Linked DNA regions of Homo sapiens: region 1 is linked to region 2. The links come from fine-mapping of genetic effects on gene expression. A gene starts in region 2. The other region holds a variant in brackets. All regions are shown on one strand. Distances are from middle to middle. Region 1 overlaps FYB1 (FYN binding protein 1). Region 2 holds the start of FYB1 (FYN binding protein 1).

Evidence for each region.
Region 1: its variant is fine-mapped to the expression of FYB1 in whole blood (INTERVAL, PIP 0.94).

The regions. Positions count from the first base shown.
Region 1 is chr5:39,193,131-39,201,472 of GRCh38, forward strand. The region is part of intron 2 of FYB1 (FYN binding protein 1); the gene reads right to left. Among named protein-coding and RNA genes, the nearest start is that of FYB1, 22 kb to the right of the region's middle. RefSeq lists an enhancer at 1,417-1,711. The variant A/T (reference allele first, on the strand shown) is at 4,106.
Region 2 is chr5:39,215,822-39,224,163 of GRCh38, forward strand. It overlaps FYB1 (FYN binding protein 1), which reads right to left and starts at 3,742. Exons shown (of 19, transcript NM_001465.6): 1 at 3,622-3,742. RefSeq lists an enhancer at 4,818-5,319.

The DNA.
Region 1 (8,342 bases), 23 kb before region 2:
GGGGAGGGGTTAGAGGACACCTGAGTGTCCTTGACCAGTGAGCATGGTCCAGAGAGCATGGAACAAGGCTTGGGGTGGGCACTCAATGCATGTTATTAATAGTTCTGCCATCTTGCTGTCTGCCTTGTGAGGGAGCAAATCGATGATCTTTTTGGAAATGTTGATCCTTAGACTATAATTTAAGTATTTAGTTGGTATTTAAAAATGAGGATGGGAAATTTCAGAGTGTCCCTCCTCCAATTCCCAAGTTAAAAATACTAAAAAAGAAAATAAGTCAAGGCAAACATTATCTAAAACTCACTAGCGGTCACCTCACAAGAAAGGGAAGATAACATCATGCATAAACTTCAAAAAGTCATGGCTAAGGGAAGAAATAGAAGGTTCTGGTGCCACCGGAGGAGAGCTAACCTTCCCACCTGTTCTCTACATCCAGAAGCAATACTGGGGGAAGACAGTGGTTCTAGACAAGCCTGTGAATTCTCTCTAATACACTCCAGGTTGGAGAAGCAAACTGTAAGGTGAGTGAGCAGCCTGGGAAGGTCAAGGAAAATCCTTCAGCATAAAAGTCCTAAATACCACAACAGGATCACACGAGAGGCAGAAGGGGGATGAGCTGCCAGGGCTGGCCCTGCCCTGGTACAGGGCACTGAATGAGATCTCAGAAAATGGAACGGAATCTGGGTCCCCAGTAAGGACTACCCTGGAGACGAGCACAGCTAACATTTATGCCACAGAAGAGTGGATTCAAAGTCACACTCAGAACTCAAATCGCAATTCTGAGGGGAAGGCAAATTTATCACACTGGATTAGAACTTGCAGATGCACTTGTCATCCATCAGCCAGATCAAAAGAACTAGTGTGACCCCTATTCATATAGCACAGTAAATTCCTGAGAGCCTGAGAGAATACTGATAAAATGATTGACACAGACATATCCTGGCTAAGATTCTTGACCTTAAGGACAAAGATTTCTTTGGAAATCCAGGCAGAAAAGCAAATCATTTTCAAAGAGGGAAATTTAGGTTGTCTGCATACTTCTCCACAGTAAATTTAAATGCCAGAATCTTGAAATAAAGACCATGTAGACTGCTTATAAAAATGAAACATTAGCTGGGTGCAGTGGCTCATGTCTGTAATCTCAGCACTTTGGGAAGCTGAGGCAGGAGGATTGTTTGAGGCCAGGAGTTTTAGACCATCTTGGACAACAAAGCAAGACTCTGTCTCTACAAAAAATTTAAAAAATACTAAAGCTGGACGTGGTAATATGTGCCTGTAGTCCCAGCTATTCGGGAGGCTGAAGTGGAGGGATTTGTGCCCAGGAGTTCAAGGCTGCAGTGAGCTGTGATTGTGCCACTGCAGTCCAGCCTGAGTGACAAAGCAAGACCCTGTCTCAAAAAATAAAAAAGAAAGACAGAAAAAGGAAGGAAGGAAGGAAAGAAGGAAGGAAGGAAGGGAGGATATCTTGCATTAAAAAAGACCAACGGATGCTGCTGGGATAGGAAACAAGAGGGAACAGTTTGTTTGCTGGCTTATCTTAGAAGAGCAGAAGAAAGAAGTTTCAAAGAGGGAAGATTAATAGGGGTAGTTCGTAAAATTTGACCAGGGACAGTGTGGTTAAGGGAAGAGAGTCTTTCTGAGGCATTTCGATTATGGGGTTAAACCCAGGTAAGCTGCCTGATTAATAGTAAGTGTGTTCCTCAGACACGTCAACATGCACCAGAAGGAAGAAGCCCTGGAGGTCTTCTGGACAACTGCTTTTTCAGGGATTAAGGAGGGTGGGTGGAATAAATTGGGCTCGGGCTGGAGTAAAAAGAAGAGTGACACCAGCCACAAAGTGTGCACCAGGTCCTGGGAGAACGAGCGTGCAGGGTGTGCTGAGGGCCTGGCTGTTACCCGAAGCTGAACCACGCCGTTGAGCAACTCCAAATTCCAGTCTGTGTATGAGAGAGCTTTGCCTCCAGTGATTCAGTGTCCTGTAATAGTCCAGTCTGTGAGCCGTTTCAGTCAAAGCATCCCGGGATCTCTTCTTTTTGTATCATGTTCTTACGTTCCCAGTGCACAGTGACATATTAATACTTGGAGAAATCTTGCTTTAAAGAATAGCACTTACCGCTACGTTTCTAAAATGTGAACATAGAATCCTTTTTCCCTGTGGTGGCTAGGAGCAACAATTTGGAAAATACTGCCACATGCTGATATAAAACAGTTTTCAATATGTAAATATCTAATAAGGTCATGTTAAGAGAGTACACATAAAAGGAGAATGGGGGGAAAAAGAAAGGTGATAGCTTTGGGGCCTGTGAAGGAAAATCTTACCCACTCCTGGAAACAAGTTACTTGCTGGTGAAAATAGCCCAGGCACCTTTTGGTTTCAAGTTGTTGTAGGCTGGATTAGTTAAATGATACATACACAGATGAGGAGGGGGCCATCAGTCTTTTGTTAATGCCCTCTGGGGCCCTCGCCTTACACCTGTTGCTGTCAAGGTGCTTAACTGATCATTCCTATAGCTAACATATGGAAAAAATCAGTCTTGGTCTCTCAGCAGTATTAAGAACAAGACTAGAAAAAAGGGTCAAACTGAATATTTCCCAGCAGGTTTTTACTAAATCATACATGCAAACCAATAGTCAGGCCAGGGATTCTTATGAACCCAAACTTTGGTGAGGCATTGTGTTGACACATGGGAAGAAGCCCTTTCAGAACTGGCTCAGGACCCAAAAGGAAGCAAAGGAAAGGTTAGTTCAGAGAATATTTTGATATTTTGGGTTTTTTTAAAAAAAACGTTTAGTCTTTTGTAACCTTAAATTGTTCTTAGGAAAAAAAAATTTAGCTTCATGATCAGAAAGCAACATGTTAGAGTCAAGCTTACAGTTTACAAGGAAGGGAGCTCAATAGATCTGCAAGATAGACCCTCTCTTATAACATTTATTTTGTGTCCAAGCTCCATTCAGTTGAGTACAAGTCTACTGGCAGGGGTTATCTATTGTGTTAAAACAATTGCTAAGCTATAGAGTATTAAAATCTAATACTGAACAAAATCTGGGAGTAAATAAATTCTAGTTAAATATAATTCTTTCTTTTTTTTTTTTTTTTTTTGAGATAGGGTTCGCTTTGTCACCCAGGCTGGAGTGCAGTGGTGCAATCTCGGCTCACTGCAACCTCCACCTCCTGGGTTCAAATGATTCTCCTGCCCCAGCCTCCTGAGTAGCTGGGAGGTGCGCACCACTATGCCTGGCTAATTTTTGTATTTTTGGGGTTTCGCCATGTTGGCCAGGCTGGTCTTGAACTCCTGATCTCAGGTGTTCAGCCCGCCTCGGCCTCCCAAAGTGCTGGGATTACAGGCATGAGCCACCGCACCCGGTCTGGTTAAATAGAATTCTGTGAAAGAATAAACTTGAGAAGCTAACAAAAATTTATATTACTTTTGTACTCCAAATGAGAGAATGGCAAGCAGACTGGCTTCTGTCTTCATGGAGCTTATAGTGGTATTTACAAAACAGACAACAAACAAAAGGCATGTTTCAACCAAAGGCCACAGAAAGGGAGAGGAATGAGGATTTTGGGAGTTTCATTTATGCTTGATTCATTGTCTTGTGATATTCTGTGTTTGAAGAGAGGCAGCCCAGCACGAGGAAGTGGAATGCGGGTGGGAACACAGTCTGCGGAATCAGAAAGACATGAGATTGACCCCAGCCTTGTTTAGTCATGTTATGCCTTTGGGCAAGTTACCTAACCTCTCTGAGCTTTAGTTTACTCATAGAATTCCTATTCATGGCTTGAGAGGAATAAACGGCATAATGTGTATGTGGTATATAGCAAGTCCTCAATAAATGATGAATATTTTTAACAGTTAATACATTGGGCAAAGATGATGAGATGGAGGGTATATCTGGGGAAGAGGTTTAAAGAATTGGATGAGAACCTGGAAAGGAAGAAATGAGGTAGAAGGCTATGAAAACAGTATTAGTTTAAAAGGCATATAGAGTTATTAGATGAATGTTTGTTAATTTGAACACTAGTATAATTACTTCTAACAAGAAAAAATAGTCTTTTTGGAGTCTCTGCATTCACTGAGCAAGGCATTTCATTTTGCTCCCGTCAATA[A/T]CTATTAAATCTTAGTGAATAAATATTTAGTAATAGAATCTCATTTTTTCTAAAGCATAGAATCTCTCTTCTTTCCCATTTTATTACAAGCAAATAAATAATTTTCTAATTATACCATGCAGCAAATAATTTATCTGGAAGCCCTGTTATATGAAAATTCATGCCTAGTCAGGTGTGTTTAGGGCATTTTTTGTTGGAGTTCATGTAAAAACTCCAATCTCAAAAAATTTTAGGGTCTGTAGCAGCACACTAAGAAGCATTTTCCCTGGAAGTTGCCAATCTAAGCAGCTGTGGCCAATCATAATCCAGAGCAAATCCATTGGCCACATTTATTTATTTCTTCCAGGTTGACAGGTAATGGGGAAAGCAAATGCACTCTGGAAACAATGACCTTCGAAAACTGCCTTTGATAATACCAGTGTCTTGGGATAACAGCCATCTATACTGGCTTTGCAGCCTCTCCACCTCTGCTTGGCTGAGTCAGATGCCTTCGCTTGGCTTCAGCCAGTAGGAGATGGCAAAATCTGGGGGCACTTGTGACCTAGTGCCACTTGGGTGCCGCCTACTGCTCTCTACCAGCCTTTGCTGTAGGGAAGGAGGCATCTGAGCGCAGAAATTTCATGGACTTCTGGTGGGAAACCTCTCTTCCAACAATCATTGTTTGACTCTGGCATCATAAATCACAAATACATTTCTATATTACAAACAGAAGTAAGTAAAATGCAGTTTCATGATTCCTAGAATAATATAGTATAATATAAAATGATTTATACTATAAGATGATCAGAATATCATGGGGCTGGTGATAAAATTTTAATGCTAATAAAAGTAATAAAATTATAGACAATGCTCACTTATTTTGATACTATTATATGTCAAATTCTGTATTAAGCACTTACAACGAATCTCATGTAGTGATTATAATGTGCTGGCGAAGTAGGTGGTATTATACTCGTTTTTTCAAATGAAGAAAGACATACACGGAAAGAGGTAAAGCGAAGGTCACATAGCTAGTACATTAGTCATGCTTAAACCCCAGGTCCACTGACTTTGAAGTCTACATTATATGGCAAACAACTCTCATGCTAGGCTCTGTACCATTAATAACATTACTAATAGATAACCTGGCAACTCTGCACATTGGTTTAAAATGGGTTCATTAAACTGCTGTATCTAATTCATGGGACATTATAAGTAATAAAAGACATAAACATTTTGAAAGTCCTTTGAAAAAAGTTAAAATCCCATGTACATATTAGTAATAATATGTATACATACACAGATGGTGCCCTATTTATGACAGTTCAAATTAATGATTACTTGACTTTATGATGGTACAAAAGCAATATGCATTCAGTAGAAACCATGGTACAGTATTCAATAAATTACATGAGATAGTCAACACTTTATTATAAAATAGGCTTTGTGTGAGATGATTTTGCCCAATTGTAGGCTAATGTAAGTGTTCAGAGCATGTTTAAGGTGGGCTAGGCTAAGCTATGACATTTGGTAGTTAGGTATATTAAACGTGTTTTCAGTTTATAATATTTCCAACTTAAGAATGTTTATAAGGATGTAACCCGATCACAAGTCAAGGAATATCTGCATATATATTCTATATAAATAAATAATACACTTATGCTTTAAACATAAACATGCAAACATACATACAGGGGCACGATGGTACATGGAGAAAGTATTAAACTTGCAATCTGAAGACTTGGATTTTAGCCTCAGATATATGATTTGGTTATGTCACATCTCAACACTCATTTGTGAAATGGGGGCGATAATTACACTTAATAAAGAATTTTCCCATCTAAAGACTGTACGTACAATATACCACATGTTTATGTATACGTATATGTATATTATTATTTAATTATTTAATAATTATTTATTTTCTACTTACATACTCCAGAATTATAAAAAATAGAATTTCAGAATTTTAAAAAATTTTGCTACAACAGAAATTTAATTCTTTTCTTTATATTGCTTATCCAGTTATATAAAATGAACATATACTTTCTAATTCTGATATATTTTAACCTTCCTAAATGAAATGGTAAATTACTTAGTATTTCTAGCATTGTTTAAGAAAAATAGCAGTGGCAGGATCAAGAGTCAGCAGACCTGACTTAAAAAACTTTGTGTTCAGAAAATAAATGCTTACTTTATGACACATACACGAGTTTATTTTCTGCAGTATTGTTGCAAAAGAACGCTTTTGGAAACAACACAAATTGTTAAATTGATTAAGCTTGTCACCCATTTACTGAAGTATTATGCAACTCTAGAGAATAATCAGTTACTCTTTATTAAAATGTGGAAAGATATACAGGATTTATTTATTTTAAAAATACAAGGATCAGAGCATTGCACATAATATTCTACTTCATGAGTAAAAAGCCGGGGTGGGGGGTAGTATTTATGTTCATATTTGCTTCTGTGAACATAAAGAAACTTCAGATGGACATATAAGAAATTAAGAAGAGTGGTTTCTATGGGGTAGGGGCTGGAAAGACCCAGAAAGTGGCAGACAAGGGTTAAAGGTAGCTTCACTGTACACCATTTTACACTTACTGCTTTTTCAGTCAGAATGTAATTTCTACTTAAAAGATAAAAGAATTCAAATGCTTTTTAAAAAGGTGAATGCTTTAAAGGGGTATTATTCAGAGTTTAAAGTTATGAATCAGATTGCTTAATCCAGATATCAAATGAGGTCAATCTAGATTAAGAGGGATTGAGTTTTGATTTGTGGAAGAGGTGAATGAATAGAGAACAGGATACATTTTGGAGCATAATACATCTCAAGGCATCAGATGTTGAGGGGGTTACACTGATGACAGGATTTAAAATGTGAACTGTGGCATGGGCTACTGACAGTGAGGAAGCATTCAGGAGCAGGGGAGGGTTGCAAAGGAGAGGAGAAGGAGAACAAGGATAAACTCCGTCTGCTCTGCAGTTCTGCCTGGGTCCCTTGTAGCTTTACTTCACTAAAAATCAGACCTTGTCAGGCCTTCAGAGTCAGAAAGAGGACTTGGTTAGCATTTGTGGCAACTCACTGAAAAGCGTGACACCGGGCAACATGTGTTACCACCATGCTCTGCCACCACCCACACTGGAGCGGGAGTGAAACAAAGATGGAAGAAAGTTCCCAGGGATTTCTGCCTAACATCAGAACTCCTTCCCTGGTGTGAAGTCACAGCCATAAAATGGAGGTCATAATACTAAATTTTTTATCCGAGGTGAAGAAATAAGAGAAATAAGGGACCTTTTAGAAAGTCTCACAAAAATAATAGTTCTGAATTATGACCTGGTAATGAAACAAGATGACAGATGAGGAGGAGATGCAATGTGAAACAAGGATGAACCTTTCTGGAAGACAGATGGTCATGGGATCATTCCAAACTTGCTTTCTGTGTGTTTGAATTAGCAGAGGACTTGATCACTAAGCTGTTTACGAACAAGGAGAATACTGAACTCAGGAAGATAACATATCGCAAGATGTTTCTACAGTGCAAAAACGAAAAACAACCTTTAGGCTTAGAATTGCTTTAACTAGACCATACTTCGGTAAGGAGAAAGATGCGACTACAAGTAGTGTGGTCACCTGTAGGCATCTTGTTTCCCCCTCACAATAAACAACAGTTGCACATCATTTACCTAAAATATTAATCATCTCAGGCATGTGTGAGCTTCTTACATGCAGTCACTCAGTACCACATCCAAGAGAATTGCAGTGATATCTCTGGTAGAAATTTAAACTATTTACCCGAAAGGAGAGTAAAGTACTCCTTTGTCTGGCTCATTTTCCTAACTATATATTACTTTATGAATCATAAAAGTTCAGAAAACTTTATACTGAGAAATGGAAAATAGCTAAAATGTGAAACACAAAGTACCATTTCATGAGTACTGCTCCTTTCTCATTTGAATACTGGGCTTAGGAAACATGATGAATTGTGTGGATATTTGCAGTCACTTAAAGGAGGGCTTGTCATCTCTGTACTATTGACATTATGGCCTGAATAATTCTTTGTTGTGGGACTGTCCTGGCCATTGTAGGATGTTCAATAGCATCCCTAGCTTCTACTCACTAGAGGCCAGTAGCACCCTCCAGTTGTGGCAATCAAAAATGCCTCCATACATTGCCAAATGTCCCCTGGGGGTCAAAATTGTTCCCTTTGGGAACTGCTGACCTACAGGATAGCTCATTTTCTGTCTAACTCCTCTG
Region 2 (8,342 bases):
ATCAGAACCTGTGAATGTGACCTTATTTGGAAAAAAGGTCTTTGCAGGTGTAATTAAGGATCATGCAACGGAATCATTCTGGGTTATGTAGGTAGCACTACATCCAATGACAAGTGTCCTTATAAGATAGAGAAGAAGAGACAGCAGAAGAGGAGAGGGCCATTTTACAAGAGAGGTAGAGGTTTTAGTGATGCAACCACAAGCCATGGAATCCCTGGAACCACCAGAAGCTGGAAGAGGCCAGAAACGAATCCTCCCCTAGAGCCTCCAGAGGGAACATGGTTCTACTGACACCTTGAGTTTAGACTTCTGGCCTCCAAAACTGAGGGAGAATAGATTTCTGTTGTTGTAAGCTGCCTAGTTTGTGGTACTTTGTTACAGAAACCACAGGAAAATAATACACGCCCTTACAAAACTCCCAAATTAAACTTTTTTCGTGTGTGTGTATAATACGATTTTTAATATTGCATATATTTATATTAGCATATATTAGAAATCTCTAATATAAAAATAGTGGTATGCATGTTGTTAAAATTCTACCCGCAGCTCCCTCCTTTGTTCACTCTTTTGTTTATTTGTTTTTAAATTTTATTTTAAGTTCTTTCTGGGATACATGTGCGGGATGTGCAGGTTTGTTACACAGGTAAATGCATGCCATGGTGGCTTACTGCACCTCTCAACCCATCACCTAGGTATCAGGCCCCACATGCATTAGCTATTTATCATGATGCTCTCTCTCCCCCTGCCCTGCAACAGGCCCCAGTGTGTGTCGTTCCCCTCCCTGTGTTTGTGCTGGATTTCTATAAATATCCAACAGTCTATGTGGATGAAGTTTAGGAAGAAGGGAAGAAAGACTGTTTCATGATTATTTTTTGCTGCACCACCATTTGTTGCCATATTAGAGGTGACATCCCAGCTGGGATTATCCCTGGCTTGGAAAGACTGAGTTAGGCATTGGTCACAGGCAGCATGTGAATTTGGTGGCATTTCACCTGCACTTAGAAGCAAAGTCATCCACTGCTCTGACCAACTCACAAGGCGCAGGCTGCAGCAACGTGATTAACAAGGTTATGTATTGAATTTATATAGCTAAATGATTTTCCTGGTTTCTTATCTGTTTAGAGAGGCTGATTAGCAGAGGTAGAAAAACAAGACAACCACTGAGCTTTCCAAATTTATCAGAGAAACCCCAGACCAGCTTCTGATGGGGAAATATTCCTTGACTTCCAGAGCTTCCCACTGGATTTTCATTCCTGCCCAAAGACATTCTTGGTTTATTCCTAGTGACCAATAGAGAGCATTCCAACAATCACTTCTTATCAGTCAGCAACTATATAATAAACACCTGGGACATGCTTGGCCCTGGGCTTTGGTAAAAAGAAAGGAGACAAATGGGCCTTAAAGGTAGAACAATTTCAATTAGAAGCCTGTACAAGGTTTAGAACACAACGTTTGAGAAAGGAAAAAATCCTTAAACATTAGCGAACCAAGGTCCTTCATTTTACAAAAAAGAAACTGCGTAAGGGATCTGTCCAGGTTCACACAGTTGGGCTAAAATCTGGGTCTCTCCCTTGCTCATCCTCTGAGCTTTCCACTGCGCTATGCTGTCTGACCTGTGGGGTGCCAGCTTCTGCAGCAGCTTGCTCTTAAAAAACAGTCACAACAAGAACAGAGGGCAACCCCGATTGCCTTCTGGGCCAGGTGCTGTGCTAGGAGCTTTTCAGGGATCACCTCAAAACAGGTCAATGGAGACGTTACTGTTATCCCCATTTGACAGATAAAGAAACTGAGTCATGGAACCATTTAGGAACTCACCCAAGGCCCACAGCTGGTGCGTGGCAGAGACCACCTTCAAGCTCAGGATCTTGATTCTGGAGTCACAGTCTTAACCGCAACCCCTGGAACCACAGCCCAAACCCGCCAGCGAGCCACGGTTCACTCTCTTCACTTTCTTGTTTTTAGAAATGTTCCTGTAGAGCAGCCTCTAGTAACACCTCAGACAAATGAAATATCATTTCTACATCCCTGATCTCTCTCTCTTGTTAACGTATTGTGTAAATGGTGGAAAATGTGGTTTTTAAAGCACATTGAGGCTGGTAAAAGCTTCAAAGCCACCGCCTGCACTTACTCTTTAGACCACTAGATGTCAGTGTGATTGCTCTATGAAGCAGCCGTAACTTGGCAAGGTGCAGCATTGCACCAGAAATCAGCTGCTGCGAGCTTCCAAGCCTCTGGACTCCAGCAGAAGCTGGGGGGAATTTGAAGCCCAATGGTAGTAAACAAATAATGGACATGACAGTCAGGCAGTGTGGATTTCAACCTTTACAATAATTTCTCAAGGGAAATGGAAACCTTTTTAGCCTTTCCTTTTTGAAACGGATGGTCAACTTTTCCACGGGGTGCCTTAAGTGCACCATAACGCCTTTGATATTCAGGATCGCCTTTAATGGTACATCATAAAACATGTGGTTTTATTGGAAAGAGCACCCTTATCCTCCTCCCCCTCACCTATCACTTATGATTAATTTCTTAAGGTATCGGACTATTTGAAGTGTGTGTATCTCACATTGCATGGGGACGTTTTACTCTACCTAAAACCTCCGGTGGCATTCCCATAGCATGGGCAGAAAATCACAGCCACAACTTCACCCTTCCGGTGATAAGCCCATCTGTTTCCCACGCAGAATTATTTGTATTTAATGAAAAAATATTTAAAATGGTGAATATTAATTATTATTTTACATTAGTACTCAAAAAGTGTATATAGTTTTATCCCCTCAACAACTCCATGAGATGAGTTCTATTATTATCCCCATGTTTAGATGAGAAAACTGAGACACAGAGAGGTTAAGTGGCTCTCCCAAAGTCACACAGCTAATAGAAGGCAGAGTCAGAGGCCCATTTCTATTAATTACTTCCCTGCAAATCAAGTTAAATGGGGGGAAAAGACCTTGTGAATTTTTCAGAAGAATCAGCAATGTATACAAGACAGCCAAAGGCTCCGAGGAAAATTTGGAGTTGCTGGTTGCTTTGAAAGGCCTCCTTGGCTGATCTGCAGCTGTTTGTCATCATTTATCCAGTTTGCCAGGATTCCTTCTGAGAAGGCATAATTCATGGCAGTATAGTCCCTTTCTTTAGTCTATGTAGAAATCTCATGTGAATCCTCACCTCCTGCCAGGTTTGGAGGAAATTGAAAGTTACTCTTTCTCATCAAAAGGATGGACACATATTTGTTAGGAACCAGGATGAAATAAACCATCTGTGCCCAGCTCTGTTGGCAATAAAACCTTGTTTCTGGTTTCACTGCAAGACGTTATTTAACGCTAGTGGCACCAGAGGTTCCAACAAGAACACATGAGAGGCCTTATCCAGTTACGAAAGAGCAAGTGACAGACACGTTCCCGGCCACATTTTTATCTGCTTATCATCCTTTTGGCTACCATGAGGCTGAGTTTTAGTGTCTCCTGTTCATCTCTTTTGCTATTTTCCAACAGAACATGCGTTTCCTTCAGTTATTCAGCTAGCACAGTCTGTGCTGCCAGAATTTGGAAGTGGTGCTTTTTTCCTGCTATAAAAAATTACACATTTATTTGAAAGAAGAAACCTAGGCATAGCTGTTACCTGACTCCTGCAGAAGAAGGCGGAAGGATGGCCTCCTTTAGTGGATCTTCCTGGGCCAGGGTCTGGGCCCTACTCACTTCTAGCTGTCGCATCTGCTCTGCATGTGGAACTCAAGAACTGCGGAGCTTTCTGATGCCTGGCAGGGTTTTGTCCCGGTCAGTGGTTGAGTGAGCCACACCTCCCTCCCCTGACCAGGCAAACTTAGACAAGAAAAGTTCTATTATGCCCTCAGGATATTGAGTAATAAGGAGGAGAAAGGGGAACTTAAAAGTGTCTGTTCAGCCTGGATACTTCTGCTAACATTCCCACCAAGCATGTGATATTTAAAAGGGTAAAACCAAAACAAGATTCTCCTGCCTGCCACCATGTTTATTCAAGAGGAAGAAGCTGTAAGTTCTTTGGACCCATAATCTTTCCACACACCCAGGAGTGTCACCTGCAATGGGGGCCAAAGGGGGATGCTTACAATTAGAAAGGTCCACTGGAGCATGTGGAATATTTGGAAGCTAATTGCACCTGAGGTCAGGAGGTAAAGTGGTGTGCTTGACCATATCAACTGAAGAGTGGTCACTCATGTGTGGAAAGCCCACTAGACTCACTCTGTCGGCTCTCTGTTAGACTATTCTTGAGGCTGGAAGAAATGGAGTATTTAGATGATAATCCATGTGAAAAGACCACCAGTGGGGCTGAGTGTAGTGGGTCATGCCTGTAATCCCGGTACTTTGGAAGGCTGAGGCAGGAGGATTGCTTGAGACCAGGAGTTCAAGACCAGTCTTGACAACATGGTGAGACCCTGTCTCTACAAAAATAAAAAAAAAATTAGCCAAGTGTGATGGTGCATGCCTGTAGCCCCAGACATTTGGGAAGCTGAGGTGGGAGGATTTCTTGAGCACAGGAGTTCAAGGCTTCAGTGAGCTATGATTGCACCACCATTGCACTCCAGCCTGGGTAACAGAGCAAGATCCTGTCTGAAGGAAAAAAAAAAAAGAAGAAAGAAAGAAAGAAAAATAAAGAGAAGGAAAGAAAGAAAGAAACTCAAAAAAGAAAAGAGAAAAAAAGAAAAGAAAAGACAAGAAAAGAAAAGAAACCCCCCAAAACAGAGGCTACCATTGGGACTAAATGAGATTTTAACAAATTGTGATTGTGAAATTAACCTCCCCCACCTTCCTTCTACTCATTCATTCATAAACATCAAACACTTACTGTGTGGGTCAAGCACTGGCCAAGACTAGAAAGATGGAGAAGACAAGGATTTTCCACTCAGTGGCTTATAATCTTACAGACGTTATGCCAGAGATGGTCACTTTCCTCCCCGTATGATTTTCCCTTCTTATAGAGTAGTAGGGTCAGCAAACTATGGCCCGCATGCCAAATCTGGCCTGTGGAATGTTTTGTACAGACCTCAGGCTAAGAATTTACATTTTTTAAGAATTGTAAGAAAAGGGAGAAGAAGCAAAAGAAGACAATGATGGTAACAATGATGATGACAACAATGATGATGACATGGCTGAGACCGTATATGGCCTGAAATATTTACTATCTAGTCCTCTGCAGAAAAAGTTTGCCAAAAGTTTAGGATGCTTATTCTATCCTAAGAGATCTCTGGCTTTTTACCTGGCCCACAGCTACACAGGATAAGGCATTTTCTAGTCCCTCTTGACATTAGATTTGGCCATGTGGTTAAGTTTTAGTCAATGGGATCTATGCAGAAGGGATCTATGTAGCTTCTTGGTGTGTCCTAAAAGAGGGCCCCATCATGCTTTCCCCTCCCAGCTGGCTGGGATGCTGTGGGGGCCTGAGCTCTTCTGATCCAGTGATGACTAAGGTAATACTCTAGGCATGACAGAGCCAGGAGATAGAAGGACCTGGCCCCCAACACAGGAGACAACCCCATCTTCACTGGATTTTGCTAGATGGTTATAAAGAAGGGAACAGGAGGACAGACATTTAACTTTTAAAAATCAGTGTTATGTTGTGTCTCTTTTGCTGCAACCAAACATGTATTATAACCACTATAGAGATAGACACTGTATAACTAACCATGACACACTGTGATGAGTATTAAGCTCAAAGTATGAATAAAGGCATCTGGAAATACCCAGGAATATGTAATTCCTTCTGCATGGGGGCAGAAGAGTTGAGGAAGACTTTACCTAACATGGGACAGTTGATCTTGGGCCATGAAGGAAGCCTAACTGGAATTTGGGATTACTTGTTTTTCTTCTCCTCTCTGCCAACCTCTCTCAGATGGCCAAAACAAAATAAAATAATCCACTGGGTGAGGTGGCTCACGCCTATAATCCCAGCACTTTGGGAGGCCTAGGAGGGTAGGTCACCTGAGGTCAGGAGTTCGAGACTAGCTTGGCCAGCATGGTGAAACCCTGTTTCTACTAAAAAATCCAAAAATTAGCTGGGCGTGGTGGTGGTGCATACCTGTAATTCCAGCTACTCAGGAGGCTGAGGCAGGAGAATTGCTGGAACAAAGGAGGCGGAGGTTGCAGTGAGCTGAGATTGCACCATTGCACTCCAGCCCGGGCCAACAAGAGCAAGACTCTGTCTCAAAAATAAAATAAAATAAAATAAAGTAAAATAAAATAAAATAAAATAAAATGAAATAATCCTCCAAAAGCAAGCAACACGCCCTGTCTTCATGGAATGTACTGCCCCCTCTCCTTTTTCACCTGGCTAACTCCTGCTTATGCTCCAAAACCCAGTGTAGATATGATCTCCTTTTGAACTTTGTCCCACAAGACTGGGTAAGGCCTTCTGAGCTCTGGCGTCTTGTACTCTCTCTTAGTTGTTGGAGATATGTCTGTGTTTCTCACTAGATCATGAGTTCCTTAAGGGTTGGCGGTAACTGTGGCTTATTTGTCCTGGATTTCCAGCTTGTAGTACATTGCCAGGCATACAGAAGGCACTTTATAAACATTAATTAATGTATTAGAGGCCAAGGGCAGCTTCCTGGTTTGTGGGACTCTTGCTCTTTTTTAATGCATTTGTCCCACTAAAGGGAAGGTGAGCCCAGCAATTTATATCTCTCAGCCTCTGTGTCCTAAAAGTATATACATTTTTAAAAGTTTGCTTTCCAAAAAGGCAGAAAAGAAATGTACACATTTAGAAAGTTTTAGTTTAAAAAACTGAAAGTTTCATTTGTTATGAATGGTCTCTATGCTTAGTAGTGTCTGAAAGGTTTGAAGATTTAATAAAAACAACTAAAATGCTATGAGGTGAGTTTAGTAACATGATGGTATGTTTCCGAAATAAGCGGAAGTATAGATACTTGCTCAAATTTATCTTATTTTGAGCTTTTCTTATTATTACATAATAATAAACACCCATTTTTCTATTTTTATAAAATCTTTGCTCACAAAGGAAAATTTGTGCAGTAATATTATTTGATTACAACAAGATGATGATGCTGATAATTACATTTGATTCTCCCCTTGTCACTCTGTGTTATGTGTCTTATAATCAATAAAAGAGGGAGAGGAACAACAAACACTGAGGCCTGTTGGGGGAGGGCAATGGAGGGGAGAGCATCAGGAAAAATAGCTAATGCATGCCAGGCTTAATACCCAGGTGATGGGTTGATAAGTACAGCAAACCACCATGGCACACGTTAACCTATGTAACACACCTGCACATCCTGCACATGTACCCTGGAACTTAAAATAAAATAAAATAAAATTTAAAAATAAAAAATAAAAAAATAAAAGCAAAAGCATTGCTTTTCATGCAAACCTATTTTACTACATGCTTTGGCTACAGGCAACCAATTTTCTGAACTGGAGAATTAATGTAAGACTTTTAAGACACCGTATAGTAGTAGTATTTTCCCCTATCATTTAGAGGAAAATATAAAAATATGAGGAGCATATTTTCCTTTATGTATAGTCCTCCTTGAGATGGTGTTGACAGAAGGTGAAGTTGAAAAGAATTACTTGCATTATGTTTCTAAAGGAAACCAGTAATGTAATATTAAGTTATTATTTGAATATGAAGTTTTCATTATTTTTGTGGCTATTCACTAAAGGCCTTCATAAATTACAGGGAAACCTGAGCAATTAAATTTAAAAAAATCATTCAAATGCTTCTTAAATAAAGTTTTTGGTCTTAACATCTGCTACAGAATCAAGCTAACACCTCAGTGCTTCTGGATATTTATTAAATGTTTAGGGCTTCCATTCCCCCATGCAAGAGTAATTCTAAGCAAATGATGAATGTCTCAATGAGTAGCTCATTCTTTGTGGACGTAAAAACTAGGTTTCCACTTCTCTATCTGGTGCAGCTCTGTTGTGCAATACAAGGAGATAAAACCCTAGGTAAGAGAATTAGAGTGGGGGTGGGTGTAGTAGAGATGGAGAAGGTCAGCTTATTCTCAACTCACTACTCCCAGTATCAAATATCCATTTCAGATATAAGAATTTCTGTCTTTATACCCCAGCCCAAATTTTCTACTGTCCCTATCTCATCCCACACTCCCCTCTTCTCCAGGTGGAGAAACCCTATCCTGTGCTGTCTGCTCAGTATAATGATGACTTTGAGGTGTCAGCCTGTTCATGCCTATCACTTGTCAATGTGCTTGCTTCTCTGTCCTCTAAATTAAATACTGTACTTATTGTTGTACTTACTAGCAATTATATTTTTCCACAATTAAAAAAATGATGAAGTTAATATTCTCAAAGGAGTAAATAACACGAAACCGATGGCCATTCCAGCCA